2 linked regions of the Homo sapiens genome follow. Changing the gene in region 1 together with any one later gene gives a genetic interaction. Each region holds a gene or a part of one and is shown in the gene's direction. Other genes may lie near its edges.

The links.
Region 2: of MRPL4 (region 1) and ATG7, changing one suppresses a phenotype caused by changing the other (phenotypic suppression), as found in Homo sapiens cells (one large-scale study listed by BioGRID).

The regions. Positions count from the first base shown.
Region 1 is NC_000019.10:10,255,128-10,258,121, forward strand, and holds part of MRPL4 (large ribosomal subunit protein uL4m), read left to right. Parts: intron 1-1,580; coding exon 1,581-1,698; intron 1,699-2,994.
Region 2 is NC_000003.12:11,275,097-11,278,919, forward strand, and holds part of ATG7 (ubiquitin-like modifier-activating enzyme ATG7), read left to right. Parts: exon of another isoform or gene 1-3,724; intron 3,725-3,823. UniProt on the Homo sapiens protein: E1-like activating enzyme involved in the 2 ubiquitin-like systems required for cytoplasm to vacuole transport (Cvt) and autophagy.

The DNA.
Region 1 (2,994 bases):
TCACTGATGTGGGCATTGTGGTGGGTGAGAGGATATAGCAGGGACCACGAGGACAAAACAGGCAAGGTCCGGCTGTGTGCAAGTGGCTCAGGCCTGTAATCCCAGCACTGGAAGCTGAGGTGGGTGGGTTGCTTGGGGCCAGGAAAGACCAGCCTGGGAAACAGCAAGACCCAGTCTCTACCCCTTCCCCCACAACCCCAAGAAAAAGATGGGCAAAGTCCCTATTCTAATGAAGGTCACAGTGTCATGGGAGGAGAAGTGAAGGTGAGTCAGATGGTCATACGTAATGTGTAATTATGAGCATGTCCCAGAGAATGGGACGTTCAACCTTGGGTCTACTGTAGAAGCTAACCAGATCAAGGAGGCAGTGGGGCTAGTGTGGAGATAACAGGAACAGGGTGTGCAAAGGCCCTGTGGCAGGGACCACAAGGAAGCCAGTGTTGCCACAGAGGCCAGTGGGAGCAGTGGGGAGGAGTCTGGGTTTTGTGCCAAGAACATTGAAGAATCCATTACCAGTCAGGGTCTTATCCATCCACCCCAGAGGTCTGGCCAGTCCTCCCCCTGCTCACACCTTCCCTGGCTCCCCATCACCCTAGGAATAAAGTCATCAGTCTGCTATTCTGAGTTCTTCCTGATTTCCTTGCCCTGCTCCTCTTTCCTGATTCTCCCTGTCTGTGTCATTTCCCATGGCCCTCCCTCCTTGTGGCTACAACCACATTAAAATTGTTCAAAAAATAGGCCGGCACGGTGGCTCACACCTGTAATCTCAGCACTTTGGGAGGCCAAGGCAGGTGGATCACTTGAGGCCAGGAGTTCCAAACCAGCCTAGTCAACGTGGCAAAACCCCATCTCTACTGAAAATACAAAAAATTAGCTGGGGCCAGGTGCGGTGGCTCACACCTGTAATCCCAGTACTTTGGGAGGCCGAGGCGGATGGATCACGAGGTCGGGAGATCGAGACCAGCCTGACCAATATGGTGAAACCCCATCTCTACTAAAAATACAAATATTAGTTGGGTGTGGCAGCGGGCGCCTGTAGTCCCAGCTACTCTGGAGGCTGAGACAGGAGAATTGCTTGAACCTGGGAGGCGGAGGTTGCAGTGAGCCGAGATCGCGCCACTGCACTCCAGCGTGGGCGACAGAGCGAGACTCCATCTCAAAAAAAAAAATTAGCCGGGCATGGTGACAGGCACCCGTAATCTCAGCTACTAGGGAGGCTGAGGCAGGAGAATCGCTTGAATCTAGGAATCAGAGGTTGCAGTGAGCCAAGGTCACACCACTTGCACTCCACAGCCTGGGTGACAGAGTGAGACTGCCTCAAAAAAAAAAATCAATAGTTCAGAAAATACCGAGCACCCCCTGCGTGCCCGGTGGCAGGGCCCCTGCCTTTGTGAGGCTGGCATGGGGCAGGAGCTGTGACTTCTTTACCCTCCCCCTCGCTCCCCAAGTACTCTGTGCTTGGCCAGAGAGAGCCCGTCATCATGGTGCCTCCTGTCTGACTTCCCCGTGGCAGGACTGATCTGCCCGGCTCCCTGACACCTGCCTCGTGGACCTGACCCCCCTCCTCTTTGTGCCTCCAGAGCTATGCCAAGACCAAGACGAGAGCCGAGGTGCGGGGCGGTGGCCGGAAGCCTTGGCCGCAGAAAGGCACTGGGCGGGCCCGGCATGGCAGCATCCGCTCTCCGCTCTGGCGAGGAGGTAACAGGACAGGGTGGAGGGGGCGGGGAGGGGTGGGGGGGCCAGGGAAGGGCCTGGGTGTTTACTCACACACAGCTGCGCACATCTGGCATGGTATTATGTCAGCCCTGTTCCCTCCACCTCATGGAACCACCTGGGCTGGTGACATCGGAACTGAGGCCCTTGGACCTCACTACCCATATAAGGGGACAGAGATCTGGGAGCCATCCACTCCTCCCTCTCGCATGCCCTGTCTCTTCAGCCTGTGGCCACAGCCCCTCTTGACCCCACCTCCTGTCACCCTCTCCTGACCCACACTTCCCACAGCACCCAGAGAGCTCTTCTAAATCGTGGAACCTGAACTCCGGACCTCGGCCTTTGTGTGGAACCTGAACTCCTGACCTTGTCATTGTGGGCCCTGGTGGCTGCACACCTTTCCCCCTCATCCCCTCCTTTCCCTCTCTGACCAGGCAGAGATGACTCTCTCTTGTTTTTTCGGTTGTGTTTGTTTTTAACTTTTTATTTTCTTGAATGCTAACAAGATGACTCAGGGTGGTGCCAGCCACCCCATCACCTGTTTACCTGGCCAGCTCTCCTCACCTTTCAGGGTTCTGGGCCACACCTCCTCCAGGAAGCCCCCCTTGATCTCCTTTCCTTCCACATCCCCCGGAGCTACCCTGATTTCTTCTACAGCTGAGCCTCTTTTCTGCCCTGCCGGAATGTGAATGGCATGAGGGCAGGGACCATGTCTGTTGTCTTCTCTGCTGCATTTCCAAGGCCCAGGCGAGGGCAGACACCAACACATGGTGCTTGCAGGGGTCTCCCTGACTGTTGTTGCTCCCAGATCATACTGCTTGCTCCACCGGAGCATGTGCCTGATGCCTTCCTCTCCCGCTTGACCTGAAAGTTCGAACCTCCTGATAACTTCAGCATTAACAGCGTGCTTGAGTTAAGTTCACACTCTAGCCACTCTATGGAATCCACACCATAACTCATGGTGTCCTATGGGGCAGGAACTGTCCGATCTCAAGGTGGTTTGTTTTTTTTATTGTTTGCTTTTGAGACAAGATCTCGCTCTGTTGCCCAGGCTGTAGTGCAGTGGTGCAATCATAGCTCACTGCAGCCTTGAGCTCCTGGGCTCAAGTGATCCTCCATCCTCAGCCTCCCAAAATGCTGGTGTGAGCCACCTTCGCCAGCCCTGTCTCAGAGTGTGACAGCTGGGAAAACTGAAGCCCAGTGAAGCAAAGTCACTGGTCCCATGTTGTCCCTGATCCAGCCTCCCCTGAGGCCCCACCCTCTCTGCCTTGTTCCTGGCAG
Region 2 (3,823 bases), on another chromosome or scaffold:
TTAAGGAGGTGGAATTTGCTGGACTTGGTAACTGATAGGATGAAACAGAAGAAGGGGACAAGAATCAGGATCCTGATGACGGGAGGGCAGAAATGAATTTGCTGTGTGGAATTGAGCAGTAACAAAATTCTTTGACTAGTGTCTCTAATAGATTAACCCTGACCTCTGATTTTATTTGGAATTCAGTTTGCCTCTGTCGTCCACTTCTACCCATGGAAATGACGTTCGCTAATGTCTTCCTCTCCTCTTTTTTTTTTTTTCTTTTTTTTTGAGATGGAGTCTCACTCTGTCGCCCAGGCTGGAGTGCAGTGGCACGATCTCGGCTCACTGCAAGCTCTGCCTCCTGGGTTCACTCCATACTCCTGCCTCAGCCTCCCCAGGAACTGGGACTACAGGTGCCCACCACCATGCCCGGCTAATTTTTTTTTTTTTTTTTTTTTTTTAGTAGAGATGGGGTTTCACTGTGCTAGCCAGGATGGTCTCCATCTCCTGACCTCGTGATCCGCCTGCCTCAGCCTCTCAAAGTGCTGAGATTACAGGCGTGAGCCACCGCTTCCTCTCCCCTTTCTATCTCCTGATCTCCCCACCCTTCTCCAGTGCGATTAAGGCCTGATTGTATAATCAAGGGACAATAAATACTGGAGGTGCTGCTCTGTTAATTGGTAGTCAGTAGGTATTACCATGATCTTGGCAGACTGAGGAATAGCCTATTCACTCCATCTCAGACCGGCTTCAGAATGATCACTTTTGGGATTTCCTCACACCTTCATCCCAGTTACCATCCTTGAACTTGCTCTGGTTTGTCAGCCTCTCTTTGAGTGTGTGGTACAGAAAGGAAATCCTCTTTCCTTGAGGACTCTAACCATGCAGAGCAAGACTGCACTTTTCTTGTGGTAACCTAAAGCCCTGCCAGCTCCATTATAGACACATTGTGCTTTTGACACTATTACACTAGTGTGCCACCAAATAGGCCCTCAGCGTGGCTCAGCCCTCCCCATATCCTCAGGCAGCTCTCTTGTCCATTTCCCTTTATGTCTTCCTCATATTCATTCCTCTCCTCAACCTCCTACCTTGACTTTTGCTCCACTAAGTTGCAGCCATTAATTAAGGCATCGCAGCTTCCTCTTCTATCCTTTACCAACTGATCTTTAGCTGACCCTATCCTTTTGCCTTTTATTCTAATTCTGTGAAAGAAATGGTGTTTTAAGACTAAGTCCTCTATTTGTGCTTGAGATCCCATCGCCTCCTTTGCCTCAAGGACTGGGTTCCATCATTTGTTCATTTTCTTTTCTGTTTCATCAACCCTTCTCATTTAAATATTCTCTGTTTACTCTCATTTTGGAAAAAACAAAAACCCTCCAATTAACCTATGCTGCACCCTGTCACACCTCTTTTACCCAGCCACCTTTCTTGGAAGAGTTATCTAGAGTTGCTTCCTGTACTTCCCTAAGTCATTGCTAAAATCCTGCTCTCGTCCCACCACTCCCCAAAGTCATCAGACCTCGACATTGCCAGAATACCTGACCACTTTTCCTTCTTATCTTTCTTGGCACATCTGACATTGCTGACCTTGCCCCTCACTTAGGAAAACCCAGTCCTACTTTGTATTATCTCTCTGGCCATTTGTCCCTCAATTTCCATTGTGGGCTCCTTTCTTCCCCTTTGTCCCTCACATGCCAATTTTTGCCAAGACTCTGCCCTCTACTATATTCTTTTCAACCGCAGCTTCAAACTTGTTTATATGCTCATGACCCCTGTTCTGTATCATAGCCCGAATCTCTCCTGAGTGCTACCCTCAAACTCAAACAAGTCTAAAACTAAGCTCCTCATCTTCCCTTTGAACCTGCCGTTCTTTCTCCATTCTTGAATCTTGCCAATTCCTCTCCTTTCATTTAGTCATCCAAAACAGAACCCTGAGAGTCATCTCAGACTCTTCCTCTGGTACTAGCCCTCCTTTCCATCTTCCAAGTCCAGGTAGTCATCAGAGTTCTATAGATTCGACTTTGTTGCTATCTCCTGACTCACATCTCCTCCATTTCCTCCCTTGCTCCCTCATTTCAGGCTCCCCTCCCTTTTTGCCTGTCTTTCTGCACAGCCTCCCAGCTGGTTGCCCTGCCTCAGCAGTCTGGTCCTCACTGCTGTGGATTGCCTTTACTAAAATAGAGATCTATGCAGAAATACAGTTGCATAGCTTTTCACATAAGGCTCTTCATGATATGGCCTTTGCCTGCTTTTATGGCATGGTCCATCTACTCTGCCCCATGTGCCTCTCCTTGCTGCCATACAGAACTCTATCAGGGGAACCTGCCCCCAATATTTCAAGGTATGTTCTTTCTATTTTCCATAAGTGTCAGCTGGCTGAGAAATAAAGAGAAAGAGTACAAAGAGAGGAATTTTACAGCTGGGCCTCTGGGGGTGACATCACATATTGGTAGGACTGTGATGCCGACCCGAGCTGCAAAACCAGCAGGTTTTTATTAAGGACTTCAAAAGGGGAGGGGGTGTGCGAACAGGGAGTGGGTCACAAAGATCACATGCTTCTGAGGAAACAGGACAAGGACAAAATCAGAAACTCCTGATAAGGGTCTATGTTCAGCAGTGTATGTATTGTCTTGATAAACATCTTAAACAACAGAAAACAGGGTTCGAGAGCAGAGAACTGGTCTGACCTCAAATTTACCAGGGTGGGGTTTCCCAATCCTAGTAAGCTTGAGGGTACTGCAGGAGAACAGGGCATATTTCAGTCCTTATCTCAACTGCGTAAGACAGACACTCCCAGAGCGGCCCTTTATAGACCCCCCCCCCCCCACCAGGAATGCATTCCTTTCCCAGGGTCTTAATTATTAATATTTCTTGCTAGGAAAAGAATTTAGTGATATCTTCCCTACTTGCACGTCTGTTTATAGGCTCTCTGCAAGAACAAAAATATGGCTGTATTCTGCCTGACCCTGTAGGCAGTCAGACCTTATGGTTGTCTTCCCTTGTTCCCTGAAAATCACTGTTATTCTGTTCTTTTTCAAGGTGCACTGATTTCATATTGTTTAAACACACATGTTTTACAATCAATTTGTACAGTTAACACAATAGTGGTCCTGAGGTGACTTACATTCTCAGCTTACAAAGATAACAGGATTAAGAGATTAAAGACAGGCATAAGAAATTATAAAAGTATTAATTTTTGGAACTGATAAATGTCCATATTAAAATGAAATCTTCACAATTTATGTTCAGAGATTGAAGTAAAGACAGGCATAAGAAATTATAAAAGTATTATTTGGGAACTGATATATGTCCATATTAAAATGAAATCTTCGCAATTTATGTTTCTCTGCTGCAGCTCCAGCCGGTCCCTCCGTTCAGGGTCCGTGACTTCCCGCAACAGAACTCATTTGTATTTTCTCAAACATACCATCCTGGTTTGTTCTTTCATTGTTTCAGTCATCAACAAGTATTTATTGGGCACCTGTGAGGTGCGAAGACTGGTGTTAGAAAAACAATGACGAATAGGGGAAAATGAGAAGCTGGCACGGTTCCTTTCTCATAGAATTTTTATTTATTCATTCTTTGTTTCAGTCATCAACAAGTATTTATTGGGCACCTATGAGGTGCTAAGTCAGGTGCTAGAAAAACAATGATGAATGGGGGAAAATGAGAAGCTGACATGGTTCCTTTCTCATAGAATTTTTATTCTACTGAGGAGGATAACTGCATACGTGCTATGAAGGTAAGGTAGTTGGTGCTCTTTGAGGACTAGAATACAGGAGGATCGACCTAATCCAGAGCTGAGGGAGTCAGGGAAGGCTTCCCTCAGAAGTGATGATTG